Linked DNA regions of Homo sapiens: all the other regions are linked to region 3. Evidence: fine-mapped expression QTL. A gene starts in region 3. Each other region holds a variant in brackets. All regions are shown on one strand. Distances are from middle to middle. Region 1 has its middle 62 kb from the start of LINC01581. Region 2 overlaps MCTP2 (multiple C2 and transmembrane domain containing 2). Region 3 holds the start of MCTP2 (multiple C2 and transmembrane domain containing 2).

Evidence for each region.
Region 1: its variant is fine-mapped to the expression of MCTP2 in whole blood (TOPMed, PIP above 0.99).
Region 2: its variant is fine-mapped to the expression of MCTP2 in lung (TOPMed, PIP 0.91).

What each region holds. Positions count from the first base shown.
Region 1 is chr15:94,164,348-94,174,721 of GRCh38, forward strand. It overlaps the pseudogene H3P40. Among named protein-coding and RNA genes, the nearest start is that of LINC01581, 62 kb to the left of the region's middle. The variant G/A (reference allele first, on the strand shown) is at 5,407.
Region 2 is chr15:94,475,625-94,485,998 of GRCh38, forward strand. MCTP2 (multiple C2 and transmembrane domain containing 2) reads left to right here. Exons shown (of 23, transcript NM_001385001.1): 22 at 1,072-1,169; 23 at 3,342-8,328. The coding sequence ends at 3,410. Among named protein-coding and RNA genes, the nearest start is that of LINC02852, 110 kb to the right of the region's middle. The variant G/C (reference allele first, on the strand shown) is at 4,672.
Region 3 is chr15:94,225,864-94,236,237 of GRCh38, forward strand. MCTP2 (multiple C2 and transmembrane domain containing 2) reads left to right here and starts at 5,698. Exons shown (of 23, transcript NM_001385001.1): 1 at 5,698-5,801. RefSeq lists an enhancer at 3,953-4,092 and a silencer at 5,628-5,757.

The DNA of each region.
Region 1 (10,374 bases), 62 kb before region 3:
TTCTCCGAAGCTGAGAATAAAATCCAGATTCAATCATTGCCGTTTCTGTATTCTACCTGCAGGGGGCAGTGCAGGCTACTGTATGTGGCCTTTGGCCTCACTGGGAAAGGGTTTCAGAGGATCAGGGGCAGTTGGAGAAATTTTTTTCACTTCTTTTATTTGTATTTGCTGTTTCTGAACTGATTTGAATCACAGTGTCATTTCTGTTGCGCTTTCCTTCTCCTTCTTCTCCTCTCTGATGTCTTCTCTCTCCGCATTTACTCTTTTTCTCCCAAGATTCCCAAAGTCTGAAACAGCTCTACTTGCAGTGAAAAGAAATGCGTCCCCCTTTTCCTTGCACTTCTAATCAGACGTTGACGGATTAGCTAAAGGCGGGGGGAAGCTGGTGTCCTGATTATTCTATGTGCCCATTTATCTGGAGAATGTTTCTCAGGTAGATCTTCCTACCTCTTGATGTACTTGATGAAATCTATTTCTATCACTTTCCTCCTAAAACCCTCAAATACCCCGTCAAATCCCATAGGATAAGTCTAAGCATGGAAATCTATCTTAGCCTGTTTCTCCTACCCTGTTCTGCACCACTACACCAGGCTGCAGCCCGTGAACACATACTGTGTCCATTCCCAACTCCGGGCCTTCACTTATGGCTGCCTTCTCTCTGAAATGTCCTTCCCCTATTCTCTGCTCATAAAACATCATGCTCACTCATCCCTCAAAACTCAGTTCAAGTTCCTTAGTGAAACCTTCTCTCACTTGAACTTCACAGCCTTCCACATACATCCCAACCATCTTAGCAGCCTTCTGTGCACAAGCTCATTGGCAGGCTGTCACTCTAGCAGCTATCAATGTGGCAATCTTCCTCTTTCGTTCTTATTTATATCTGTTTTCCCATTACATAGCACAGGGCTGGAATGATGGTAGGTACTCAATTCATATTTATTAAATTCATAATCGAATGGCTCTTTTCTAAAATACACTACTTCTGATATATCCTAGGTAAGTTATCTTTAACTTGTACACATTTAGGTCACCCGGAAAGCTCTTGAAACTCCTCATAAACAGACCCCACCCCAGACCAATGAAACCAGAACTTCTGTGGATGTAGCCCAGGCATGAGCATCTTTGAAAGTTCTCCAGCTTTCAAGACGCAACCAAGGCTTAGAATTACTGCCATTGCAGTGATTTACAAAATGTGGTCCCAAGGCCAGCCATATCAACCTTTTATGGTAAAGGCAAATTTTTAGGACTCACCCAAAACCATAAATGCAGAAATGGCTGGGGAGTTTGGGAGTGGTGGCTGGGGGGCGGGGGGGGGGGCAGGGTAGCAATCTGTATTTTAAGAGACCATTTATTTAGTCAACGCATACTACAGTGTAAGAACCACTGCCTCGTCCTGGCGTGGCTCACGCCTGTAATCCCGTTGTGTCCGGAGTTGGTTCCTCCATGCCTGTAATCCCAGTGTGTCCGGATTTGGTTCCTTCCAGTAGGTTCGTGGTCTTACTGACTTCAAGAATGAAACCGCGAACCTTGCTGGTGAGTGTTACAGCTCTTCAACGTGGCAGGGACCCAAAGAGTGAGCAGCAGTAAGATTTATTATGAAGAGTGAAAGAATAAAGCTTCCCCAGCAAGGAAGAGGACCCTACCACGTTGCCGCTGCTGGTTGGGGTGGCCAGCTTTTATTCCCTTATTTGTCCTCCCCCCATGTCCTGCTGATTGGTCCATTTTACAGAGCGCTGATTGGTCCATTTTACAAAGTGCCAATTGGTCCATTTTACAAACCTCTAGCTAGCTACAGAGTGCTGGTTGGTGCATTTTTGCAGAGCACTGATTGGTGAATTTATAAACCTCTTGTAAGACAGAAAAGTTCCCCAAGTCCCCACTGGATCCAGGAGGTCCAGCTGTCTTCGCCTTTCAGTAGGACTTTGGGAGGTTGAGGTGGGCGCATCCCCTGAGGTCAGGAGTTCGAGACCAGCCTGGCCAACATAGTGAAACCCCGTCTCTACTAAAAATACAAAAATTAGCTGGTGTGGTGGGACGTGCCTGTTATCCCAACTACTCGGGAGGCTGAGGCAGGAGAATTGCTTGAACCCAGGAGGTGGAGGTTGCAGTGAGCCAAGATAGTGCCACTGCACTCCAGCCTGGGCAACAGAGCGATACCCCGTCTCACACCCACACAAAAATACTAAAATAAAAAAAAAAACCCACTGCCTCCGAGATTCACTTTAAATAATGTTGCAATGTTTTGTGTGAATGAATCCTTCCTCCACCTTGTTCCGATTTTATTCTGGGCACTATTTCTTCCATATACTTACAAACAAAAAGCAGGCTCATATTAGATTTTTTTTTTAACCCAGTTTGGTCTTGTGATCTACATCAATCCATCTTGTGACCAATATCAATGCAATAGCCCAAAAAGATATTTTACATGTTTATTTCATGCCTTAAAACAACCAGAAATATCATTGTCATGGCTAATTTCCAAATTATGAACTAAAAATTGACAAAAAACGAACATACATTGGACTTTCACTATGTGCCACACACATATTAATACACTTAACATGTATTATGTTAAGTGCTTAATTATCTCACAACTCTAAAAAGTGAGTACATTAGCACATCCATTCTACAGATGAGAAAAGGAAGGCTGGAAAAAGACATGATGAATCCAGGGGGAAGAGCAGGGATTTGAATTCAGATCTGCCCTGACGTCAAGTTCTTCTTTGGGGTTTCATGATTTTCCATTTTGTACTTTGCACATAGTCATGCAGCTGTAGAGTGAAGAAAATCTGTTGCTTTTCAAAGTTCCTGGCTAGTTCCTGAAGAAATGTTATTACTTTGAGCACACTGATATGGTTTGGCTGTGTCCCCACCCAAATCTCATCTTGAATTTTAGCTCCCATAATTCCCACTTGTTGTGGGAGGTGATTGAATAATGGGGGGGGGTGGGTCTTTCCTGTGCTGTTCTCGTGATAGTGAATAAGTCTCACGAGATCTGATGGTTTTATACAGGGGAGTTCCCATGCACATGCTCTCTTTTTTTGCTTGCCACCATGTAAGATCTGACTTTGCTCCTCCTCTACCTTCTCTCATGATTGTGAGGCCTCCCCAGCCATGTGGCACTGACTCCATTAAACCTCCTTCCTTTATAAATTACCCAGTCTCAGGTATGTCTTTATTAGCAGTGTGAGAACAGGCTAATACACACATTAAATAATTATGCTGTTTCCTGCTCATTTGGAGTGGTATACACATAAGGGCTTTCTCTCTTTTTTTTTCCCCCAAGGCTTTAAAAAGGGGTATGATTTCAACACTCACAGGATTGGAGAGGAAGTTTTATTCGAAGACGGTAAAACTCTTAAACTCACAGCCTTGGTTCTAAACCTATGGTCTGAATTCTTAGAGTCATTATTCACGTTGTCATTCTGAGTCTATGAATATTACTAAAGTTTTACCAGGCCCTGTGCTAGGCTTTGGGAGGCAGAGCGGTGAAAGAGATAGGTAAGGCCTCTGCTTTCCTCTTAATCAAGCCAGGGCCCCTGCTTGCTCGCCATCAAGAAGAACCATATCTACAATACATAAATCAGTGCAGTAGCTAAGTTTAGATGTTATGATTGCATTACCAAAGGCAATAAGACAGGAGGTGGCCAGCGCAGGCCTCCATGAACTAAACTGTATCGTGTGTGTGTGTGTGTGTGTGTGTGTGTGTGCGCGCGCGCGTGTGCGTGTGTGTGTGTACACGTTTCCTCTTAAGGGTACTGACAGAAAGATCTTTTTACCTGCGTACCTCTGTTAATAACTAGTTCTAAACTATGTTGGAGAATGGGTATGGATTCTACAACCAGATTAAATAGATATGGCCTATCTGACAAAGCAAACCTGAGATTCTATTTTCAAAACAGTACACCTCAATCATAAAATCTCTAATGCCAGCACCACCTGTAGCTCGCTGAGCCCCAGCTGAAGGAGAAGGGGATAAGTAAGGAGGTTTTTAAGACCGTGGCTGGTACAAAGCCGACTGCCCACAGATCAACCAGTGGCAAAGCCCCCAGGAAGCAACCGGCTGTGGAAGCTGCTTGCAGTAGTGCGCCCTCTCCTGGAAGGGTGAAGAAAACTCATAATTACAGGCCTGGTTACTGTGACACTCCATGATATCAGACCTTATCAGAAGTCCTCCAAACTTCTGATTTGCAAACTTTCCTTCCAGCATCTGATGCACGTAATTGCTCAGGACTTGAAAACATCTGCGCTTTTAGAGCGCAGCTATTGGTGCTTTGCAGGAGGCAAGTGAGTGAGGGCTATCTGGTTGGCCTTTTTGAAGACACCAACTTGTGCACTATCCATGCCAAATGTGTAACAATTATGCCAAAAGTCGTCCAGCTAGCACATCTCATACGTAGAGAAGGTCCTTAAGAATCCTCTATGATGGGAACATTTCATTCTGAGAAAAATTCTCTTCTTCTTGTTATTGGTGGTTCTGAATGTTAGATATTTTTTTTTCCATGGGGTCAAAAGGTAACTAAGTATATGATTGCCAGTGAAAAAACAGAGGACAGAAACCAGATATTGACACTTTTTTTCTGTGTTCGTTTGTGTGTGAACTGTTAGTATAAATGCCCTGCATTTATGTCCCTACATGAAGCATTAATGCAAGTCAAACCTTTCAGTGAAGAAGTCTCAGTGGTTAAACTTTATAACAATTAAGAAACCTGTTATTTTTTTTCTGAACAATGCTAGCATTTGGATTTTTTAAAAAAAAATAAGTAAATGTTTTATTGACAGCAACTAAATGGTGTTTGTAGCATTTTTATCAAATGACAGATACCATCCATTCACTAGACTTTTCTCACTGAATTGTCCTACATGCAGTACGTGTTTTTTAATGTTGTCTTTCTTCTGTGTTGTTTCTGTAAGTTTGCTATTAAAATACATTAAACTATTTTTAAAAAACTCTCCATAGGTCGTGGTCAGCAAGCATGTCTTCAGCAATCACATCAGTCTCAGGAGAAATTTTCATGGTCAGGAAGATAAATTTCATCCTAGATAGGGCAGTGTTGTAATAAAGGCATAGAATAGGATGGAAGCATGGTGATGACCAGGAATAATGAGAACTCTCCTCTACCTGCCTGTCCAACAGATATATTATTTAAGGATAATTAGTTCAATGCTTAAATCAATGAAATCTTATTTTAAAATAGAGTTACAAATAATCACTTTTAGTAACTCAGAAGGAAGCACTGGGATGAGGCTATGAAAGGCAGAATGTGTTAGTGAACAAAGTCATTGAGTCCGTTAGGTCACAACTGAGACTATGCTTTCAAAAGCATCCCCTAGCCTAATTACCCAATTGTTTTCTTTTTGATTTTTAGACAGAGTCTTGCTCTGTCACCCAGGCTGGAGTGGTGC[G/A]ATCTGGGCTCACTGCCACCTCCGCCTCCCAAGTTCAAGCAATTCTCCTGCCTCAGCCTCCTGAGTAGCTGGGACTACAAGTGTGCACCACCACGCCTGGCTAATTTTTGTATTTGTAGTAGAGACAAGATTTCACCATGTTGGCCAGACTAGCCTCAAAGTCCTGACCTCAACAGATCCACCCACGTTGGCCTCTCAAAGTTCTGGGATTACAGGCATGAGCCACTGCACCCAGCCCTATATGTATTTTTTTAATAGTCCTTTTCCCCTAGAATTGTTCACAACCCTTATTCTATTCCTTTCCTTATGTTTCTGTCTTTCATCCTCCCCATCAGGAGGGCCAATTACAAAATACTCAGGGAAGGAAAGGCTCTTAGGGACATGTTTCTAGGAAGATGAATCTCTATAAACTTTCCTTCAAACAATCACCAACTCCAGTTTCCTGATTTTAACTCAATTGTCAAGTCATTGTTAGATTCAAAAATAGTAAACAAGAAAGCAAAGAATAAATCAGAACCTGAGGATAAAGGGCAGAAGGTTCATTGAAGAAGGTAAAAGTTTGGTCCACAAAAACAATTTTAGAATAAATGAATCCAGTAATGTCGCAGGATACAAAACCAACACTCAAAACTCAGTGTGTTTCTCTACACTAACAACAGAAAACCCCAGAAGGAAATAAAATCAACAATCCCTTTTACAATACCATCAAAAAGGATAATGTAGAATAATGAAGGTGCTTACCACTATGAACTTCCCTCTTAGGTCTACTTTTGCTGCATCCCCTAAGTTGTGTTTCCATTTTCAATTGTCTCAAGATATTTTTTAATTTTCCTTTTGATTTCTTCTTTGACCCTTTGGTTGCTCAGAAGTATGTTGTTTAATTTCTACCTATTTGTGTGTTTTCCCATTTTCTTCCTGTGATTGGTTTATAGTTTTATATCACTGTGATTGGAAAAGATAACCTGGTATGATTTCAACCTTCTTGAATTTGTTAAAACTTATTTTGTGTCCTAACATATGGTCTATCCTGGAGAATGTTCCATGTGTACTTGAAAAGAATAGTATCCTGCTGCTGAAGGATGGAGTGTTCTATTGTAAAGCATGGCCACTATAGTTAATAATAATGTATTATTAAGTTGGTGCAAAAGTCATTGTGTTTTTTGCCAATGCACCACTGCACTCCAGCCCGGCAACAGAGCGAGACTCCATCAAAAAAAAAAAAAAAGTATTTGCAAAAACCACAATTACTTTTGCATCAACCTAATAAATACTTGAATTGCTAAGAGTTTAAATCTTACCTGTTCTTACCACAAAAATATATATGCCTGTGAGATTATAGTTAATTAGTATGATTTAATCATTTAATAATGTACAAATATACCATAACATCACAGTGCACACCACAAGTACACAAATTTTTCTTTGTCAGTTATAACTTAATAAACCGGGGAACATTTTTTAAGAGCTGAAAGTATTATAAATATGTAAAAAAAGAAGAATAAAATACTTAGGAATAAGGTTTTGTTTTTCATTTTTTTAATTTATTTCATTTTATTTTTTAGTGATACATAACAGATGTACATATTTTGGGGGCACCTGTGATAATTTGATACATTCATATAATCCTAGGGTAATTAGGATATCCATCACCATAAATATTTATCTTTTCTTTATGCTAGAAATATTGGAATTAACAGATAAACATAAGGAGGCAAAAATCTTGTACACTGAAAATTATAAAACGTTATTGAAAAAATCAAAGAAGATAAAAATAAATGGAAAGACATCCTATGCTCATGATTGGAAAAACTTAATTCTATAACGATATTCATAGTACCCAAAAAATCTATAGATTCATTGCAATCCCTATCAAAATCTCAATGGCAATTTTTGTAGAAATAGACAAAACCCATCCTGAAATTGATAGGGAATCTCAGAAGACTCTGAATAGTCAAAACAATCTTTAAAAAGAAGACCAAAGTTGGAGTTCTCATACTTCCTGAATTCAAAACATAATACAAATCTACAGTAATCAAAACAGCATGGTAATAGCATAAAGAGAAACATATAGACCAATAAAACAGAATAGGCAGCCCAGAAATAAACTCTTGCTTACATGGTAAAATTATTTTCAACAAGGGAGTCACAGTCACACAATAGGGAAAGGAGAGCTTCCTGAATAAATGGTATTGGGAAAACTAGATATCCACATTCAAAAGAATGAAATTGGATTCTTACCTTAAACAATATACTAAAGCTAACTCAAAGTGAATCAAAGGCCTAAATGTAAGATTTAAAACTTTAAAACTCCGCAAAGAAAACATAGGGGAAAGGCTGCATGACATTGGAATTGGCATTCATTTCTTGAATACGACACCAAAAGTACAGGAAACAAAAACAAAACAGACAAATGAGACTATATAAAAGCTACAGATGAGACTATATAAAAGCTACAAACTATTTGGCATCGAAAAAGTCAACAGTGAAAAGGCAACCTACGGAATGGGAGAAAATATCTGCAAATCATCTATCTCATAAGTTCGTATCCAGAATATAGGTAGACTTCTTAGAACTCAACAATTAAAAACAAATAACCCAGTTCAAAAATGGGCAAAGAACTCAGCTAGACACTTCTCCAGTTGGCCAATAAACACATGAAAAGATGTTTAATATCACTAAACAACAGAGAAATGCAAATCAAAACCACAGTGAGATACCATCTCACACCCATTAGGATGACTATGATTTAAAAAACAAAAACAAAAGCAGAAAACAAGTACTGGCAAGGATGCAAAGAAATTGGAGACCTTGGACACTCCTTAGTGGGAGTGTAAAATGATGCACCTACTGCAGAAAACAGTATGAAGTGTCCTCAAAAACATAAGAATAGAATTACCATATGATCCAGTAATGCCATTTCTGAATATATGTCTGAAAAATTAAGAGCAGGAACTTCAAGAGATCTTTGCACACCTACGTTCATAGCAGCACCATTCACAACAGTCAACATTTGGAAGCAACCAAAATGTTCATGGATGGATAAATAAAGAAAATGCGTTCTTTACATACAATGGAATATAATTCAGCCTTAAAAAGGAAGAGAAACTTGTCACATGTTACAACATGGTTGACCCTTGAGGACATTACGCTAAGTGAAATAAACCAGTCACAAAAAGACAAATAATGTGTGATTCTACTTATATGAGGTATATGAAAAGCCAAACTCATAGAAAGTAAAATTGTGGTTGCTAGGGGGCAGAAAGCAGGGAGGTTTTGTTCAATGAGTCTAAAGTTTCAGTGCACAATTAAAATTTCTGGACAACTATTGCACAGCTATGCGAATACAGTTAACACTACCAAATTGCACAATTTAAAATTGTTAAGATGATAAATTATGTTAGATAGAGTGCTTTAAGAGAGAGAAGAGCAGTCGTTCTTGGGGTATAGCTACAGTTAGTCAAAGTCATTGTATTTGGCGCATTAGGTGTTACAGTTTAGTGAAAAAGGAAGTTTGTGAATAAGGAAGAAGAAACCCAGAGAGGGATGTAAACAGGAAAGAGGAATAAGATGGAGGCGTGGCCGGGCGCGGTGGCTCACGCCTGTAATCCCAGCACTTTGGGAGGTCGAGGCGGGTGGATGATGAGGCCCAGAGATGGAGACCATCCTGACTAACACGGTGAAACCCCGTCTCTACTAAAAATACAAAAAATTAGCCAGGCGTGGTGGCAGGAGAATGGCATGAACCCAGGGGGCAGAGCTTGCAGTGAGCCGAGATCACGCCACTGCGCTCCAGCCTGGGAGACAGAGCGAGACTCCGTCTCCAAAAAAAAAAAAAAAAAAAAAAAAAAGATGGAGGCGTAAGAGAATAAAGAGCTGGTGGGCCAGGAGAATGCCCTGTAGCAGAGGGCAGAAAAAAGTGCTGGTAGTGGGTGTTGGTTAGTGGTGTTCTGTACTGCAGATATTTACGGGAAAAACGATACCCAAAGTGGGAACATTTCAGAAAAGGCAGAATTAGCCTTGGAAAATTAGGAGGGAAAAATGAGAGAATGAACATAGAAATAGAGTTTATTAATCAGAATGTAATACTGCAAACCACAGCAAAAGAATTTGGTTAACTCAAGCAAAAAGGAATGTATTTGGAGGGTCTTGGGTTAACTCTCAAAATTCACAGAAGACCAGATAATCAGAGCTAAACCAACAAAGACTGGGATCCAAAAACACAGGCAAGTTCAAACCACAGGATGAACTGAGGTTAAGTCATGGGCACTGGTACTATTGCCACTGGACACTAAAGCTGATAACACTGGTGTCTTTAGGCTACTGCTGGTGACAACTTTAAGCTGTGAATCTGTCAACCGCTCCCCAAGATTCAAAAGCTTGGCTGTGCATGTCTTACCAGCCAAACCTTCATCACCTTCCCACTCCTCCACACCATGACTTTCAAGAGTACCTGCTCTCCTGCTTTGGGAGACACCCAAGTCACAGTGTCCCACCAGGACACACAATGCAGGAATTCCTTCAAAAAGTAAGGCTCTTATGATCATGAGTTGCTAGAATAAAACATGCATACCCACCACACCATACCCCACCATTGTCTAGACATAAACAAAACATAACACACAATAAAAAGCTCCTACCAAAGATAAACAAGCTTACCCTTATTCTACTGAACATATTCCACTTCCAAAAGGAAGCCACTATACTCTCTCCACTTTCTTCAAGTTTCAACCCTAAGACCTCTGACTAACATCTATTTCTTTTTTCAGTTTTGTGGCAATTCTATTTCAAACCACAAAATAATTACAAAGTTAGATGATACCAATGCATATGCAATCTTTGTGGAAAGCCACACAAATAGGGAAGTTAGTTAAAATATTTACATGCCACAAAAAGGAAGGAAATTCTGAGTAATGGCTTTAGTCATCTTCTTTGCACAGGTCCCATGCCTGTGCATGATACTGATGGCTT
Region 2 (10,374 bases), 250 kb after region 3:
TGTTAAACAAGCACCCTGTGGCAAAACTTCAGAAGGCCACCTAGTCTTTCTGCTTCTAAAACTCAACATGAAAAACGGGTTGACATTTGGTGAAAAGACTACAGCTTATGAGCTCCGGATATAGTCAAAGCAGCTCCAAAGAGCAGAGTAGAAGACAAAACGTGGTTGAGAGGAACTCCCCTCTAAAGAGTAAACCAGGGGCAGAGCGTGTCCTGGATATGCACGGGAACCCAAGGTGCAGCCACCAAAGAGGGACGGTCTATAGGATGTTGACATCTTAAACGTTCAACCCGTTTCTAATTATCCTTGTCCTTGTCCTAAATTAGCATGTTCTCCATTGCCCAGACAGACCCACGCACCGACGTTGTGATCCATAAATTAAGTTAGCAACCATAGTAAGATAATTTGCCAATAATAACTTTTCACAGTTTCCTGCAGCATCAAAGTACAATCAACATGTCAGGTTCTGTTCTGCTGTGAGAGGAGAGAAACCTGTGAAAATGAGTTGGAGGTGGGGAAAGACAGATGACTGCGGTTTTCTTTGTAACAACAAGAAAACAACTCCCGCCCTCTACCTCCCACTGCTACGTTTGGTCCAGAGCCTCCAAGCAGGGACTTGTTTGGGCTAATGAAGGCCTTTTCCCATCTGGGACATTTGTTTTCATAGCAGAGGCGGCTGTTAATCAGCGTATTCCAAAAAAGCCAACGTGCTCCCCAGTTTGAGCGTGTGTTTCTGTCGCCCTGCTGCTGGGATTGTAATGGGATTTTCACAGCTGAAGAAGGCAGAGCCCCTCTTCACCAGCCCCTGCTTCCTGCCTTCAGGAAAAGGCATTTGTGAATGATTCTACATGACAGCAACATGTGCTTGACTTGAGGTCTGGTAATTGTTTTCACACTAATTTTTACTTGTGAATATCCCCTCTCCCCCGAGTCAGGCGAGTTTTTGAAGATAGATGCTAGATAGATAGATGATTGACTGACAGATAGATAGATAGATAGATAGATAGATAGATAGATAGATAGATAGACAGACAGACAGATAAAGAGATCTCCTGTGTTTCTATTTTTCAGGCATAAATAAATTTACTAAGAAGCTTCGAAATCCCTATTCCATCGACAATAATGAGCTACTAGACTTCCTCTCTAGGGTACCGTCTGATGTTCAAAAGGTATGTAATGAATGGTTACCACCAACAGTGGCCCCAACCTGAAATCTGGCCAGCCCCGGAGCCAGAGGAACACAAGGCTTTGCTTGTGTGAGTAATTGAGATAAGGAACCAGAAAATCCTTAAAGAGGCCTGGCTTGCAGAGAAGTGGCAGAAAAATCTTTGTCCAAAGCATGAGGTGATTGGGGGAAATTGTTTTGAAAAAGAGCTACTTAAGTATGATCTGGAACTCACACTGTGTGGCTACTGGGCACTGATGCTTGTCCCCTTTCGATTGCTTGCCTCCCTAAAGAGGATAAGATGGGCTCAGTGAGTAGAATTGCATGAGATCCAAACCCAGGGAGTGTTGCTTATTTTCTTCTTCCGGGTGGCAAGCATTTTAGGGGAAGTAGGGGACAAAAGGATTATTCTTTTTATTCTCATTTGCCCTGATTTATCTCCTAGGCCTCCCTTCTATCGTCTTCCCTCTGAAGACTTAGGGATGCTGAGAATGCAGCCCCCATTTACTGTAATACACAAAGAGGCAGAGGCAGTGTGAAATAATGTGAGATCAATCAGAAGTATTATTCACAGATAATGGTCACCTAGTCCAGCAGTGTCCTGTTTCTGTGGATACACAGAGATTAACGAAGGCAACAATACTAGAAAGTCGTGTAGAGTAGCTCGATCCTGGCCCCTGTGGATCAGCCTGCTATAAATCCAGAGGAAGGAGGGCAGGCGGCAGTTTCTCTAATGGAGAACAGAGATCACTGAATAGGTAGATGGGGAGACCATGGCGTGAAATATCATCAAGATGATCAAAGACACAATCCTTTAATATCTCAGAGAATCCCAAATCAAATATCGATTTTCATATTTGAGCCACTGTAGCATAATTGGTTCCCTGGCAGCTCAGGGAGGATTTCAAAGATCTGGGGCGGAAAAGCCTTAGAGTTTCTTTCCCCTTCATTCCGAGTTCTAGAAATTAAAATGGACTCTGTGATGCTATCTTCCTTTAAAATTCATTTCATAATTAGCTGTGAAAACACATTCTAGAAAGATGAATTTACTCTTTAACATTTGTATTACTTAATTAAAAAATAATAACCCGGCCCCTGTTTGTTTTGCATTGAAGATTGACAGGTATGTCATCCTCTGCTCCCTTAGGGCACCTTCGCAAAACACCATAAGGAATGGGGTGTTTTCTTCATTTATCTGCCTCTGACAAAGTACAGCCTGACTTCTGTGATCAGGCATAATGTCCTTGGGGAATTTGTCACAAATGCTAAAAATAGGGAGCACATGTGGTCTGTAATACAATGTTTTAAATAAAGCCATTCCACCAGCAGCCTATCAAAGCCCACACACCAAAGCAATATATTTGCAACGTACCATCACTTGGGTCGCAGTGTGAGTTCACACTGTATCCTTGAAGAACAGAAATTTCCCTCAAGCCCCCAAGGATTCTCTGTGCAGAGTCCAGTCACTAGCCCTCAAAGTGGCCATTCCAGTTGGAGATGGCATGAACACAGAGAGATGCAGCAAAAGAACATTCCAGGAAGATGTACAGTATGCTAGTAAGATCCTCCGTGTATCGCCAAGGGCGCTTTCTAATAACACAGTGACAGTTTGCCACTGGGGACTCCCAAGTACTCATATTTATCACAGATGTTTTAGTCATTACATTGCAAATGAAATTAATTTCCACGAGAAATCTATATAAAAGTCTGGGGTCCAGTATCAATTTCAGCATTTTTTCCTCTCAGGCAAAGTAAATGTGTATAATTTTCCGAGATGTTTTCCCCAAGATTTTAGATATTTTTAAACGAATAATCCTCAGTAAGTTGCTGTATCATATACTAAGATAAACATTCCCAAGAGGCAGTTATTAAGCTTACTTATGGTTGAAAACTGGCACACACAAAACGAACATCATCTAGCAGTGCCCAGCGAAGGTAGAAACCCACGCATCTCATTAGAAAAATCTGCTTTTAATATTTTGGTTTCAAGAAATGATGCATGACTTCTCAAATCCTTCCTGCAATTAATCCCTCCATGTTCCTGTGTTTAGAAAATGATTCATTACCTTTGAACCTTCCTTCCTTTGCCTTCGGTTGTCCTTGGGGAGCCATTAGCACACACTGTGGCGAGCTAGGGTTACCTAACCGCCAGCATCACGGCTATTTGTTTTCACAGGTGCAGTATGCAGAATTGAAACTCTGCAGCAGCCACAGCCCCCTGCGGAAGAAGCGCAGCGCTCTCTAGGGCACACACCGACTTTGGACAGCAGCACCCAATATTGTGTTTGGTTGAGTAGACCAATGTTATGGCTGTTTCAGTGGTACCCAAGGTGTCCTTCTGAAATGCATGCCCTGTGGCACCCTCTGTATACTTCCTCCTCCTTCACGTGCACAGACATACACACATGTGCACACACCCTCATGCATGGGTGTCCTAGTTGCGTAGAGGGTCAGCCCAGCGAAAAGCAACAACCCCAAGACTGTGAAAGACTAACATCCATTCTGAAATAGGAGATAACAAGGCTGCCATGGATCTGAACACCACCTTCCTTGAGAACAGCCAGGAGCCCACTTGGATTCAAGAGTGACTTTGAACTTGTTTTCACACCTCCAACAGACTCTCATTAAGATTCAGTTATTTCCGCTCCCCAGCCCCACACTCCTTTCAGATTATCGTTCATGGGCGTAAGTCTCTTCTCAGAGTTAACAAGTCTTTGGTAGTCATCCTCTGTCCAAATATTGTATATTATTAAAAGGCATTTTTAATAATTACCAGAATTAGCTCAAACCTTTAGGGATCTTTCAGCCATGATTATTAAGGATATGTATGTGAATTTTTGGGAAACCTCTCGGTGCTGGATGCCAGCCTACAGCAGGGTCCATTGCTGGCAATGGATGGCCCAGGAAGGTCCCTAGAGATCACTCACTTGAAAAATGAGGGTCCCATGAAAGTATTTGGTTGCCTTCTGATGCCACTTCTTCTCACTTTACTTTTTGCTTATTTTCAAAATATTATAAAATGTCAACATATAATTTCAGAAAGGCAGGTGGGGGTAGGGGAGAAATGAATGAATAAATTCTCTAGGTATTTAGAAAGATAAGAAACTGAAGACCGAGAGACTAATAAGGCTGCTTACCTAATTATTATAATCATTTCATTTGCCTGAATGTTTTAAGCAGGAAGTAGAAATACTTTGGCTGCCCAAATGTATCTTTTGTTCCTCTTAGAAGTAAAATAAGCTACATACAATAAAAATTTATTTCAGAACCCCATTTCTAGAAAATACCACCCCAGAGTCCTCATTTGATAGCATCTGTCTCCTGCAGACCTCATCATTCCACAGTATTTCCCTGCCATGTAAAAATCCTGACTTTGTGCGTATATAAAATGTATGCAATTAAGTCTGTTTAAATGATATTTAAGTTTTAAAGACTGTATTTTGTTGACACATACTTTGTGCAGTTTTTATGTATGTATGTATTATAAAAAAAGTTAAGGTTAAAAA[G/C]ATCTCATTTAATAGTGAGTTCACTATTTTTTTTTTTTTGTCTCTGGGTTGTAATTTAATAATCTTCAAACAAAATGTTTACGAAAAATGCCAAAGATTCTAAATCTTATCATCCCGTGTCTGTTTTTCTTCATGTTGTATCTCACTGGGTTGCTTTCTGGCTGAGCCAGAATTCTGCATGATTTGATTTACTTCAAGTTAATGAAGCTGGCTGGAAAAGAGCCTTGCAGAAATTATAAAAGCTCCAGTAAATCTCGTAGTTGTACATACAATAGATACCCAAGAACCTCTTTTGTTAAACCAGTTACTCAATCTTCTGTGTAAACAATGCCTCATTGTCTTGCTTCTAACTATCATCTAGTTTATCATAGTCTGTCATTTTGTAACGACCTAAGTCAGACATTTTTAAACAGACATGTGAGATCTGATCAGTCATTTGAATGAAAACTTTCAGCAGCAAAATAACCCCTTATTTATTTAAAAGTGGAACCAATACTTTATTGTTGTTCTTTTGCTATAGAATTTCAAAATGAAATTATTTGCCCGACAAGAAGGCATCATTAGTTAGACTTGTTTCCTCTGTAGCCCGATTGAAATTCTCAGTGTTAAGTTTAGGACCCAAACACCAGCTGGGACGTAAGAGCAGGACCGAATCAACCTTGAATAAACTGTATATAGAAAACAATTGTTAGTTGATTAAGTAGACATTGGATGTTTGTTAGAAAGGAATGTTAGTTGTAAGTGACATGTTAAGATTTATACAATTGTCAAAAACTTTTAGGAAAGATTCCAGAATGCTTTTGATAAAATTTATCGATTGTGGATTCACAGTGTGATAATTAAGTAGGGATGTTGAAGTCTTGCCAAGTTTTCCTGGTTCCCTTCTCAAACTTTATCTTCCCATTTCTAGCCCTGTCTCTCTATCTTACAGGCATCTACACCTCAGCAAGTCAGAAACTAAACATCATCTGTCTCTCCCTGTCTTCAGAACCCCAACCCTCATAATCTCCTTCCAGCTTCCTTATTTCCCTTACCAGGACTGGCATTTTCTGGGCTTGGAATTTCTCGGTCATCCTCTTTTTTTTTGTTCCTCGTGCTGTTGTCCTCGTCTCCCAACCCCTAAAGCCTAGTAGGTCCAGTGTCAATGCATTAACCACTTCTGTTCTGATTTCCACCACCCAAGTGGAGGCCTTCATAACCTCTCAGACGTCACGGCCATGATGCCAGTTACATTATGCCTAGTTAATCTTCATTCAGACTGGAAGGACCTGCCCCCAGTTGTTTCTTTCTGAATAGATTCTACTCTCCTTCAACACTTCCAAAGTCTCCTGCCCCAAAGAGGCTTAGTTAGTCCTGTGGCTGGATGTGACTCCAACTTCCTTTTTTGTACCATCACATCTTTCATATCTTTCTGGCATCTGCCATACATCATAAGAGGCTTTGACCACTGTCCTCCACTGAATAGCCCATTACAGCTAGCACCTAATAGTTACTCAGGAAATAAATACATGTTTAACAGGCCAGGTCGTAGAGATTATTTTTCTTTCTCTGCCTTTTCATGTGCTGCTTTCAGAACAGAGGGCTGGATTGGATAGATTAGTATGATCTATCCTGGAGATTCATTTCTTGCATTAAGAGCTTATTTTGTGTGATATTATTTATAATCCCTGACTATGTCAATTATAAACTTTTAAATTATGTCTTATATTTGAAGTTCTTACCTACATATCAGAGGAAAATATAATGTTTATTTCTAGGTGGTAAAACAATCTTCTGGATTCTTTTTTCTTTACTTGTAAATTATCATTTAACAAGTCTATATTGAATGCCGATAATTTTCTGGAACAAAACAGACTACATTCCCTTGGTAAAGCCAGACATTAAACAGATACTTTCAAGCAACAGCATGCCATGCTCAGATTTAAGTTTGAAAAATATTCTAGCTGCAATGGATAGCCTAGCAATTTTCAAAGTTTAGAGAAGTTATTAATATTAGCCCTTTGTAGTACTCCTGATAAATGAATAACACCCTGGACTTTCAAATAGTGGCACTGGGAAAAAAGTAAGTAGAATTGAGAGATGGTGAAGAGATAAAGTGAGCAGGACTTAACAATTGCTGGACTATGGGATGAGGGAGCGTAGAGTCAAGGATGGCTCTCAGTCCCTAGGTCTCCAGGTCTAGGAAGATGGTGTTACCTTTCACTAAGGGAGAGAACTGTAAGAACTGCTGTGAGAGGACCACAGGAGTCCAGTTTTAGCGCTGAATCTCAGGTGACTGAAAAGCATCCAAATAGGAATGTCAGCAAGGTAATGGAATATATAGTTCTCAGAGAAGTAACACACTGTACTTGAGATGTACACAAGTTAAAGGCAAACATTGTATATGAAAAGTGATCAAAACTACATGCTTCAAGAAATTAAACCTTGAAGAACTCAACAGTTAATGTCATATATAGAAAGGCAAGTCAGTTAAGAGTGTAAATAGAAACGGGTAAATACAGAGGAGAAAAACAGTAAGCATGGACTGTCCTAGAATTCAGTGGCAGAGCATACTGCAAGAAAGCTGATGTGGTCAATAATATCAAATGCCGCTGAGATCACATAAGTACAGAATCATGACCTTAATGGTTTGACAGTTTGGAAGCACCCTGGCAACAAGCCATTTCAGTGGAATGGTAGAAATGGAAACCACGCTGGGTTGAGAAGTGAGTGGATGTGAAAATATGGGGCCTCTGAATGGAGGTAACCCTTGAAAAATTCCACTGTGGAGAAGAAAGGAGAGAGAGAGGGCTGGAATTTGGAATGAAAGGAGATATTTGGGATTATTTTAGTAAGAAAACAGAGGTGTCATGACCTCAGTGTAACCCTATTAGCTGCAAAAAATTCTTCATGGGCTTGAGATGGAGTTAGCCATATTCATTATTGAAAACTATGTTCTGCACTTATACATTGTTGGTTGGAGTGTAAATTAGTTCAACCGCTGTGGAAGACAGGGTGGGTGTTTCCTCAAAAACCTAAAGACAGAAATACCATTTGACCCAGCAATCCCATAACTGGGTATGTACCCAAAGGAATATAAATTGTTCTACTATAAAAACACATGCACACACATGTTCACTGCAACACTATTTACAATAGCAAAGACACTGGATCAGTCTAAATGCCCATCATTGATAGAATGGATAAAGAAAATGTGGTAGAGGTACACCATGGAATACTATGCAGCCATAAAAAAGAATGAGATCATGTCCTTTTGCAGGAACTTGGATACAGCTGGAGGCCATTATCCTTAGCAAACTAATGCAGCAACAGAAAACCAAATACCACATGTTCTCATTTATAGGTAGGAGTTAAATGATGAGAACACATGGACATGTAGAAGGGAACAAAATACACTGGGGGCTATTGGAGGGTGAAGGGTGAAAGGAGGAAGAGGATCAGGAAAAATAATGAGTACCAGGCTTAATACATGGGCGATGAAATAATCTGTATGACAAGCCTCTCTGACACAGTTTACCTATGTAACAAACCTGCACAGTTACCCCTGAACTTTAAAAAAAACTATGTTCTATCAAAACCTGCCTCTCATTTATGTATTAGGAATCTTGTGACAACGGAACAGTTGAAAAATTAAAATAAAAATTGCCTGAAAATGCATTGAGTAGTAACTGATAATTGAATAAATGCTGAAATCCTGAAGGGTGACTTCTAAAGGAATGGCTTCAAGCATGTTACCTCTGTGTAAAGCCCACAGCTGTTCTGTCCTAGCATTTATGTAATGATTTACACAGGAAAATGGATATTCAAGCACACAAGAATACTAATATTTTATGGCATTTATCAAATGCCAGTTACTTTCTAAGTGTTTTAGATATAATTGCTCATTCAAAATAATTCTAAAAACTGAAATTTCTCCAAATACTTATAGGAAAAAAAAAAAACCTGTCGCTCTTATACAAACTCTTCTAGACAATAACAAAAGAAAAAAAACCACTTTCTTAAGCATTTTATGAGGCCAACATAACTCTCCTTCAAAACCAACTAAGTTCTACCAGAATGGAAAACTACTTAAGAAAATCCCTTATGAAGATACAAAATTGTGAAAGATATACAGAAGTCTTTACACTGAAAACATCAGTGAGGCTTCCAGATACTTGACCAGACAATAATGAGTAGATAATCACAGTTCACATATATAAGAGAGAATGCTGGAATTCTACAGATAAGTGACAGGAAACACCTAAAGCAAGGAAGGGAAAGAAAGCAATACAGTCTGTTCAGGTGGGATAGGCTAGGAGCCAGGAAAGGCTTCCCAGTATGAGAAAAGAGTAAGTGGGTGACTCCTAGTGATCAACGTTCCCACTACAGACTCCCACATTCCAGCCATAGGAATGCCCCTAGACTATTGTGAGCCCCCAGACCAACATAGGGAGCTACCTGAAGACCGTGTGACGATACTGCCCCAGAGAGGGAGCACACATAATCCCACACACCCCCAAGTCCTAAGCAGCTACAGCAAGTTGTCACTTGGATATCTCAGCCCTCACCAGACTGCATTCTGTCCTGGGCCCTACAGCCCCTGCATCTTCATATCCCTGGAACCCCAATGACATGCTTCACCTGCAGCCACAACTCCAGCTGCCTGCTACCTGTAGGGCTTAAGTGTGAGCTGTTGGCAGCTACCACACTGCTCCCAACTGTGAAGCTGCTGTGCAGCTTTTAATCACCCTAAGGACAACAAATCCACCAGGTGACAGCCATAGCAGTGGGCTGCCTCAACTGGGGCCAAAGGCAAGTGAAATGTACACTTCCCAGGCACTTGTGTGCCACTGCTGCCATTGAAAGTGACTCTATTCTCCCCTGTACCAGGGGTGCAGTACAGCTGCTGCCACCCCAACATGAACATTCTGGGGCCTGGGGTCACACCGCCCCTGCCTTCCATAGTCAGTGTCTGCAAGCACTACTGAAGGATGTGAGGATGAGTCCACTGGACCTAGCTCTGACCCCCACCCCCTAGTATCAAATCATGGCATCTGGAGGCCTGGGGAGTACTCAGCCCAGTCCACCAATATTGGCACCTGAGCACTCCAACAAGGGCCCTGAAGTTGGGGCCACCCAACCTGCCACTACCATCACAATGAGCACACACACACACACACACACACATACACGTGTCACCTGTGGGCCTGGGGACTGGCCTGCCCAGCCTGTCACAACCACTGCCAACACCACTGTGGAGCTCTTGGGACTCAGAGGTTAGTCCTACCACTACTACTGCTTCACCCATGCCATGCCAACTGCCCAAGTGCCCAAGGACACACTTACCACCAGCCCACGACTGCCACTATCATCACCCAAACAAGCTGCCTGGAGGCCCAAGAATTGGCTGGCTTGGGTCTGCTAGCACAGTGCCAGCATACACTGTCCTAGGGCCCAAGGACAGGCCCATCTGGTGTCCTTTTCACAAGCAAAAGTTCACCACAGCCTTCCCTAATAACCACAACCTAGGCCACTGACGAAAATCACAGACACCAGTGAAGCTATTTAGAGCCAAAGAAATCATGAGAGCTACACTACTGCATACACCCAGAATCAAAGCCAAAGTACCATACCCAACAAACACCACAGACACATCTTCAGGAAAAAGCCCTGCCCTAGGAAAGCAAGTTAAAAAATGGAAAGAAGTGATTGTCATGACAGATG
Region 3 (10,374 bases):
CACATAGTTTGAAATATAAAGCCAGGGTTTTCAGATGAGAGGTGCTGGAATAGAACTACATTTTGCAAAGTAATGAAGTAGGGCTCACTTTCACCAAAAACCATCAGGGATAAGGAGGCAGGTCACAGCCCACACTGAAGGTGGATGCAAAGGTCACTGTAGAAAGTTCTAAACTACAACTGAGAAGATGTCTGATATTAACAAATGAAGCTACTCCTTTCCCTTTAAAATATCTAAAATATATTTTTGTGCTGACTGAATTAGGTTTTCCTTATTCTTCTCCATTTTAAAGTCAGCTGAATAGAAGTTCAACCTAATCAAAGTTTACTTTTTAAAAGAACAAGCCCTTTAGAGAATGTGTAATTTTTCATTATAGTTGGGTATTTCTCAGTAGGAAAAATGAAAAACTTTAGCACATACTGGAAATTAAGAAATTAAGAAATTAACTTAGTCTTAAGGTCAGATTACTTACTGTCTTATTTTCTACTTTGGATTTTTTCAGGAAGTGGCAACAATTGTCACTACAAAGACGTGCCTAAAAAAAAATCAGTAAAGCAGGCAGGTGCCTACCAGGTTGGTTTGCAAATGTCCTTATGCACTTAATAAGACCTTGTCTATTTCCTGACTACTTTTCAATCCATTAATTAGTGATGTTGTACTTTCTTTGTAGGTTATCATTAGAGGCAGTAATGGGAGACTGGATGAATGAAAACTTATGCAAATTATACATCCCAACCAGTCACAAAGACAGACTGGAGACGTCAAGTCCAAAATTTGTTAATGTCCTCAGCCATAGACATAGTTATTATTTCTCCACATTTGTCTATATTTTGATTTTCTGATTAAGATTATGGAAATACTGCTAGATGGCTGGCTTCATTTATTGAACTGATCTTTGTCTGCCAGTTGAGTCTGTACTTATCTCAATTGTGTAAGCCAGGTTTCACCCATGAAGACTCCCTTTTTTCATCACTTGGGACTGACTGGGGTCCCGGTTTCTGCTGATTCTCTGGTGTATTTTCTACCTGGTTTTTTACACCACTTGCTGGGCTCTGCAGGTGCTACTATCAAGGCCTCTTCACTCTGACACTCTATTGTGTTTATCTGTTTACACATCTAGCGAAAATGTGAGCCATTGGAGGGCAGAAGCTATCATATTTGTGTTATATCCACAGAGTTTATCACAGAGCTTAATATATGGATCAGGGGATTCAAACTGGTTGCCAGGCTTTCGGCCACCTGTATTTTTTAGCCAGCACAGGGTTAACAATAAGTAAATTTGAATGTCTTTAGGTGGGCCTACTCTCTGCTATTTGCCACAGTCTCTATCTTCTTATATGTGACCACAGTCAATCTCTATTTCACCAGTCTCACCCATGTAGGCACCCTAGTTTGTGGTCCTGGTTGTAGATGATGAATACATGCTAATTATGTGAATGAATACATCAATGAATGTACTTCTTATTTTGCATGGAGAATTGATTGTTATCTAAATATTCTTGTCCTGAAAATTCCCCTAGTTTCATCTCTCATTTTGGAAAATACAGGTAGAAAAACAGATAACTGTAATGTGCAATGCACAAATAAGCATTTCTGAATACTTGCCAGAGGTGAGCCACTCTGTGCATTCTAGTGGCTCAATTAGAGAGGAAAACAAATTCAACTGTGTTATTTGCAGAACCCATAAGATGCAAACAAACCATTTGTTGTGGAAAAGCTCAAGATTTTTGTATCTGAGATGAGTGATAACTTCTACCTTGGATCATCTTAAAACAGGCAGTGTAATTTTAAAAAACAATGACCCCGACCAACATGCCAAATGTATGTTCAACAACGTATTTCCCAAGGTAGATTCTTAAGATACCCCCCACTATTGCCAATGACAACACACTAGAGAACAATTCAATAAATGTGATTTGGGGCCACAGAAATTCTCTACAGTATGAACCTCTCCCCTGGCCTAGGGGAAGTTTTAAGCAATTAACTGAATGAAATTCAGATCGTCAGACAAAAATGTTGGTACTGAGATAGTAATCTTGGGCAAAGTTAACCTTCATCTGAAGAAGTAAATTTGGTTCTTCTTTACCCATCTAATGAATGGCAGACTCAGTCTCTTAAGAGTTAACTCCAAGCCTCTAATAATTTTAACTTTTCAGAAGCAACCACTACCAGATGTTCATTTTGGCCATAAAAGTTCCCACCCAATAAAGGTACAACATCCATAAAAGTCGATCTTTGAACAACTTACTACCTGTGAACATTTCCAGCTAATCAGCTTGTGTTAAATACATGTTTAGGTATTTGAAAGAAAAGAACTTGATACATAGAATCATCATTAGGACAATTCAATGCTGATGTTGATTTCCAAAGAGATTTTATAAGAAGTCTTTCTGAATAATTAGAGAATAGGACTCATTTTCTGTTAGGTCCATTCTTTTGTTCAAGAAAGTGAAGCCTACAGGATAAACTCGTAACTAGTAAGTGGCAGAGCTAGGTCTGGAGTGAGTCACTAAATTTGGTCTCTCCACACCTGCCTATAAAAAGGGGATAACATGATAATTATACCAAAGGAAAAAAAATCCTGAGTACATATAATAACAAAGACTATTTGCACTAACAATAAAAGAAGTACCATTTCTCAACGCCACGTAACAGAGTGCATATTCTTCCTTAAAGCACACACTAAAATAAACATTTGTTACTTGGACAATAGACTGAAGTTTGCTTTAACCATTATATTCGTTTTAACCCCTGGTAGATCTAAATTGACATGTTTATGTCTCAGTCATTTTTCTACTTCTGCTCTTATCGGCCCAGAAATGATGAGAAGCACCAACGAAGGAAAATGTGAGGGAAGCTAGGTGCCAAGCCCTTACATTACTGCTAGCAGATCTCAGACAGCTTTCTCTTTGACATAAAGGGACTTGTCCCAGCAAGATTAGCTCTGTGTCCTCCAAATGGAGCCAGACTGTGTTGACTGCATGGCCAACTCTGATAGGATGACCCAAGGAGGCTCCCACTGAGCAGAGAAGATATGGAACTCTAGATCCTATGCATTTACAGACAGGGTCTTGTCTTCTTTAGAGAAGACTGCTTTAACCCTCATTGTCAAAGACTCTGGGTGGCTACAGCAATTTTCATTTGTTTCATTTGAAATACTCTGGCTCATTCAAAAAGGCACAGGGACGTGGCTAGATAACTGCACTAATTGTTATCTAGCCTTTGTATGCACTTAACCGTGCTTCTGCATGTATGACAGGCAGTATAGCCATGATAGCCAAGGAGTACACTGGGCCTTCAGAAGACACATCTTCCATTTACAATTTAAAAGAAGAGGTGCCAATATTAGATTGTCATGCAACCAAACATACATTGTCTAAGATATAAAAGCAATTGTATCTGAAAGTGGGAAATCTCCACCTCAATTATCACATTGACAATAGGGGCATTTCTTCAGAGGCCAAATATCTGGTTGCTCAGAAGAGAGAGAAAGCTGCCTATGATACGTGCAGGAGATTTTATTTTTTTTTAAGTATAATTATGACATCACTGACCAGTGCCTATAATGTAAGACCTGGTTCAAAATCTGTTTAGAGAAATTCAATATAACAAAAGTGTGTTAAAAATTTATCAGCTACATGTATGAGTCCAGTTGCCATTCTAAATGCTGGTGTGGTTATGTAGTAAAGTTAAATTGGTATAAGCAACAATATTATTCCCTGGAAGGGACATTTCCTGGGTGGAACATAGAAAAGGAGACAGGTAATATGTTTGAACAATTAAAAACAAAAAACCCAGGAAGCTGGGCAGATGAGTGTATTGTGGTGGGAAGGGCAAGTTGTGACCTTAGATTTCTGTATCTTTAGTTGTTTCACTTTCTATACCATTTAATGATTGAAAAATGCGGTTGGACTGCCGGAACCACAGAACAGGAACTCCACTGGGGCAGGAGTTAAAGGCAAAAAAGCTTTTGTGTGGGTTCACTTACTATTTTAATTCATTTGTATTCTTAGTCAGCTTTAAAGGTATGATTGCTTCGTCTGCCTACTGCTCTTTCTCTTCTTCCTTTCATGCTGTTTTACCCTTACCTCTCTCTGTTCTCTGCTAGGGGATGTAACCTTCGGCACGGTGGGAAAAGCCAATTTTGCCATAGGCCTCAGCTTGCTCTGACTCGGCTACTAACTTGACTCATAGCTTCAGGCAGGTTATTTCATGGTTCTGATGCTCATTTTCCTCATCTTGAATCAGAGATTTTATTAACTGTCTCCTGGTTTGTGAAAATTCAATATGATCACGTGTTACATGCCAATCACAGAAACTGGTGCGAAGTTGTGTTCCTCAGTGGTAGCTATTGTTGTAAGTCGGAATTGCATGACAGTGGCAGCTGTTTTCTATCACGTCCTCATGTTTTCTAAATTTTTATGCCCCTTCCTCCCATTTCCTACCTTAGTATTGTTAATAGCTAACTTTTATTAAGTGGTTACCATGGCCCAGGACACTGTAATGAGGATTTTATGTGAATTACCTAATTAATTTCTCAGAAAGTATGAGATAGCTATTATTTTAAGCTATTTAAGCTATTTTAAGCTATTTAAACAACCAGTTTGTTGAAGTTAAAATTTAGAGAGGTTAAGTGAACTCGTCCATTTACACAATTAGTTGCCCAGGCAGAATTTGATTTGAGGTCTGACTCCAAAGCCGGAGCTCTTAATCACCAGTGACACCAACTAAACGCTTCATTTCAGAGCTCGCCTATTCCCAGAGGTCCCATTCCCGTTTTAAGGTTATTTTCTGTAACTCTCTTGTATCTAATTTAAAAATGCTATTTCCCAGAGATGAGTCCCTGATCTCCCAGAAGGCATGGATCATACATTTCTTTTCCTAATCCACCCAAATTCCTAGAGCGCACAGACTTAGGCTCGTTCATAGACGGGAAAAGAAACTGACCAGGCAGTGAAACCGAGCAAACAAAGTGCAATAAGACAATTACAGCAGGAAAGCGGCGTAAAAAAAAGTAGAAAAAGAAAGTAAGGGAAAGGGGAAATAAATAGCAAATATTCGCTGAGTGCCAACAATCGCACGGGAGGGTCTTTAGGGTTCTCTGCCGAGTACTCGGGACGGCTTGCTGAGCAGTACGCCGGCCTTATCTCATAGATGAGGCACCAAGGCTCAGGAAACAGTTCTGTGGATCTGGGCGGGCATCTTCCACCCACAGTCGCGCACACGTGGCATAGGTTAATAGGCTGTCTGGCTCGGGTACCTCTTCCCAGGGTCAGGGCGTTACAAAGGGAGGCTGCTGTCTTCCCATGAATCTATTAGGGACCTACAGGAGCGAAGAGAACCCTTCTGAGTATCAGCGAAGACAGCTTATTAAGACTTTACGAGTTTGCAAGCCATCCTCGTCCTATTTCCTCACTTCGGACTTTTTGGACACACCTTCCTTTTCCTGTGAGCCAACCCAAACGAATGAGTTACAAGTAATCGCCTTCTCTACGCCCAGCCAGTGCCCAGCACCAAGCATAGCGCCTCCTTGCAACACCCGGCCGAGCTCCCGGCGGCAGCGCGGGCGCTTGGGTCGGAGGCTGCTCAAAGGTGACGCGCGGCCGCCTCCTCCCCTTTAGGCGGGGCTCGCAAGGGCGGTGGGGGGGCCCGAGGAAGTCCGGGGGCCCTCGGTGATGCCCCCGCCCCCGCCGCGTCAGGGTTGCTCCCTGCGCTTCCGAGTGGCGACTGCAGCGGGTCCGGTGCAGGTGAGGGGCGCGCGCCTGCCCAGCTTTGCAGCCCCCGAACGCGGCCTCGCACAGGTGAGGGCGGTGCCGGGTTCACCTGGCAGCGCGCGTGGGCCGGGCAGCACGGTCGCCGCCTGGGGGTGGGCGTCTTCTCTCAACCGAAGCTGGGAGTTGGGGAGCTGGAGGGTCCAGGATGAGAATTCAGTGGCGCTACTACCCCGGAGCTGCTTGTGGTTCAGAGATCAGAAAGGTGTCCTGAGGACTGGAGGCAGAAATCCAGGCGTGGCGTACTGGAAGGCGCACTAGGGGAGGGCAGCCTGGCCCAGAATTTCTTTGCATTTTAAAGGCCACACATTCAGTCTCCCCGGGGCGCTACGGAGGTAGTCACCGCCACATCCAGGACTCCTTCCACAGAGGTCAGTTCCTCAGCTGGGTGGGCTTTAATACGCTCTCTTCGTAGAGACCCGGAGGTTCAACTTTAATTCTTTGCGCTGACATTTGCTCAACGACACCGGAGCAGAAATCCTTGGGATAATTGCGTAGGTAACAAACAGTGTCTCAATCCCACTGAAGATAAGTAAGTTAAAAATAAAGACAGTGATGTTGGTGGTGAACTTGAGTGGCGATTAGTTTCCGCAATTAGTTCCCTCCTGCACTGTCCATTTGTTAAGCAAATGTGCTGACGGCTTTTTTTAAATGATTGGGTTGCCATAAAAGAGGTTTTCTCTAGTCTGAATGAACTTCTGTGCGATGCTGACTGAGGGTTTCAGCCTCCTCTAGATGCTTACAAGAGCTTGGTCTGGAAGGTACAAGGGTGCGAACCCTTAAGGTACCAAGCAGCTTCTCAGTGAACCGTGAGACGTTAGAACACTTGCTTCAGGACGCACAGAATTCAGACACCACTTATTGAAGGATTTGTATGGATTATAATTTACATTAGCATTCATTTTTTGCTTGAGTCAGTAGCATTTCAATTCAACAAATATTTATTGTACACCTGTTAACGGGCAGACCTCTGAGAGCCGGGCTGGTGTGCTGTTGGGTAGCACAGGTGTTGATATTAATACAAAGGGGAATCTTAAGGCACTTATTCCTCACAGGTGGGTGTTTAGAACGAGACCAATGGTGCTGCGCTTTGCCTCAGCAGCACCTGTGTAATCGCTGGTTATAAGTATTTAAATGCAGGGAGAATGTAAATCTTTGAAGAGTCTCTGTCATTAGCCTGATCAGTCATTCCAAAGCAATAAAAATTGTCAAAACCATGCTTAAAATAAGATTATTAAGAATTAGCTCTGTGCCAAGCACCATGCTAGGCACTTTGTCTTGTCTATGAAATCTACAAAGTAGATACTATTCCCCTGTGCAGATAAGGAACTGAGGCAGAGAGGAGTCCAGTAATTTGTACAAGGTCAGTGGTGAATTTAGAAATTGCATGTGGCTATTTCTGAGTGCAGAACTCGTACTTTTTCACTATTCCATGCTGTCTCTAAGATGGAGAGTGTAAATCCGGCAGATTTAATATAAGAATTCAAATTTATATTCATAGATCCTATCTCCTGGGGATTAATGGAGTTAAAGTAGTCCTCAGGAATGAAGTGAGCACTGTTTTCATTGCACTTGTGTGGTCAAGCTGTGACCTATCTGTGACTAGTAGATGTAGCTTTAAAAGATAAAATTTATTATGTGTCTTAACATATTTTGAAAGGCCTTTCAAAATATGTTAAAAGATAAAATTTATTATGTCTCTTAACATATTTTGAAAGGCCTGATATATCCAAACAGGGCCAATTAATAAAATTGCATATATATTCTCTCTGTGTTATACATGGAAGGAACAGCTAATTTCCTATTATTGGTGTGCTTTACTATGGTCTCCTCCTGCAGAGGTGAGTTTCTCAGCTGAGTGGGCTTTGAAATCAATTTCAGCTTGATTTCTTACAGCTGCAAGATGATTAGCGGTCTCTTGTCACCTGGAAAGGACTTTGTGTTTGTGTAAACCTGTGCTCACACACGAATATATATTTTTCCTTAAACCTATTTCCAGAAGTACTACTTCTGGAAATTGTAGAGTACTGCAATGTGATGATCTGGCGAGGAATCAAGTTCCTTATTTGACTTTTGCATAAAGGATTTATAACAACTGACAATTTCTTTAAGTGCATGTAAACCAGGAAAGTAATTTTCAAATTAAAATTATTATACTGTGGAGAATGGAAAGTGAGTGAAAAATAGTACTCTGAATTCAAATAATATTTCTTGTTGTGGAAAACACTTGCTTTCTTAAAACTTTTCTTGTAATTGTTGGTAATTACACACAGAAATGGAAGGGGTTTTATATTTAAATTACCTTGAATTGTTGCCAGTTAACTGTTGAGAAAAGGCTTTGCCCGTGAAGCGAGGATCAGGTAGAATATTTTGCCTGCGTCAATCTTGGCACAGATTTTTTTTTTCCCTCTATCTTCACGTGGAGGTGAAACAGCCAGACACCTTAAACTCCTCTTTAGGAGCTGAGCTGTTAAGTCCTTCCTAGAAGGTGTTTATAAAAGTGTGCCTGACCTGGTAAGGTGTTCTCATGGGGAACCAGGGTGGGTGATGAAGGAGGAGAGTATGTAGGGGATATGAAGCAGGGGCAGTTCCAAGTTTTGTGAGGCCTAAAAGGTAAACAATTTGGAGACTCTCTTTAAGAAAATTAATACAAAATTAGGTGTGAAAGTGAATATGTATTTAAAATGAGAAAAAGAGATGATAATTTACTGGAGATTTCTGCCTGTTTCTGTGGAGATCTTGGGCAATTTACCAGAAATGCTTACAAAAACAGGAGTGCTGATTGCAATCCGGCTTCCCCTCTCCCTGAGAACACTCAGCATTTCCCAGCAGCTTGTCACACCCACGGGGGGCCCTGCTAGTGAGAAGCCCAAAGTTGAAGCTCTGTTACCCTCAAAGAGTGAGAGGGAAAGTTGTGGTTAAAGGCAAAGGACTCATGCTCCACTGAGCAGAGAAGAGACTGCTGGATGGGACAGCAGAGACACTCTGGACACTCATGTCCAACGAACAATTCTGAGAGCTGGTCTTCAAGACTTTCCAGGTTGGTTTGTTTCTCAGGGATGCCTTTGGCCATTGGCTTTTCCAACTATCAGTCACCATTTATTGGGAGTTTTCTAATGTCCCAAGTCCTGAGTAAGGCGAAGTCCTGATTGTCAAGAACTCCCAGTCTCATGGAGCTGATTTCATTGATCACAGTGCTTTGTTATAGGCTTGCATAGAGATGCCACAGGGGCCTTGGAGGGTTCCTGATGGCTTGAGCTGAGTTTGGAGTTACTCTGATGGAGTCCAGGAGGGTCATTCTAAGTGAGCAGAGAGCCATTAAAAGCCCTGGTGGTGGTCGGGCACAGTGGCTCACGCCTGTAATCCCAGCACTTTGGGAGGCCGAGTTGGGTGGATCACCTGAGGTCAGGAGTTCGAGACCGGCCTGGCCAATATGGCGAAATCCCATCTCTACTAAAAGTACAAAAATTAGTCCGGTGTGGTGGCAGTGCCTATAATCCTAGGTAATTGGGAGGCTGAGGTAGGAGAATGGCTTGAACTTGGGAGGCGGAGGTTGCAGCAGTGAGCCAAGATTGCACCATTGCATTCCAGCCTGGGAGACAAGAGCGAAACTCCGTCTCAAAAAAAAAAAAAAATCCCTGGTGGTTTAGACTCATTCATTCTCCTCCACTGATGTTCTTCGAGTCCGGCAGCACCTACGTACCTGAGATTAACTTGTTAGAAATGCACGTTCTCAGGCACCCCGCATTAGGAGCTCTGCGTCTAGAGCACAGTAATCTGTGCTTTAAGAAGCCCTCCGGATGATTCTGGTGCATGCTAAAATCTGAAAACCACTGGTCTTAATATTTAAGAGAACAGATAGGGCATGGAATCCCTTATGGAGATCACTGGGAGGGAACTGAAATTAATAATAATAGTAATATATTAGTGTTGTAATATGATAATTTGTATTACTATCACTAACATTTATTGAGCTCTCAGGTTGTGCCAGGCATTTTGCTAAGAAATATTAACTCTTAATCTTCGGTACAAACCCTGGGTAACGCAGGGCTATGATCAACTGGATTTAAATGTGAGAAAACTGAAAGAGAAATAGGAAATTGTCCGTAGTCACACAGCTGGAAAGTGGTTCAGCCGGGATTCAAGCACAGGCTGTCTGGTTTTAGAACCTTCCTCTTTTATCTTGCCTGGGAGAGTTTTCATCGATGCCACTGTTATGTGTTGGCATTGGCCAAGAGGCAGGCCTGGGATTGCTTGGGATGTGCCTGTTTAACAATCGTAGTCATTTGCTGACTACTGTGGTTAAGAAATTTTTCATTAGAGACAAATTTCCAAACTAGGAAGGAAGAACTTCATTGTCATTTACTCCTGATGCAGACTTTTAAAATTTCATGAGTGAATAGACATGATTCCATATAAATGATTACATCACATGCAAATACCATTTCCCATAGCGTCATGATTAAGGGCTCCTATGGATTACCCAGCGGGGAGTGATGTTGGTGATTATGGAAGGTGGCCTTGTTTCCTTGTTTAGGAATGCTGGGATTTGATCTGATTATTAGAGGCCTCTCTTCTAGAGGCCAAGCACCTCCCCAGGCCA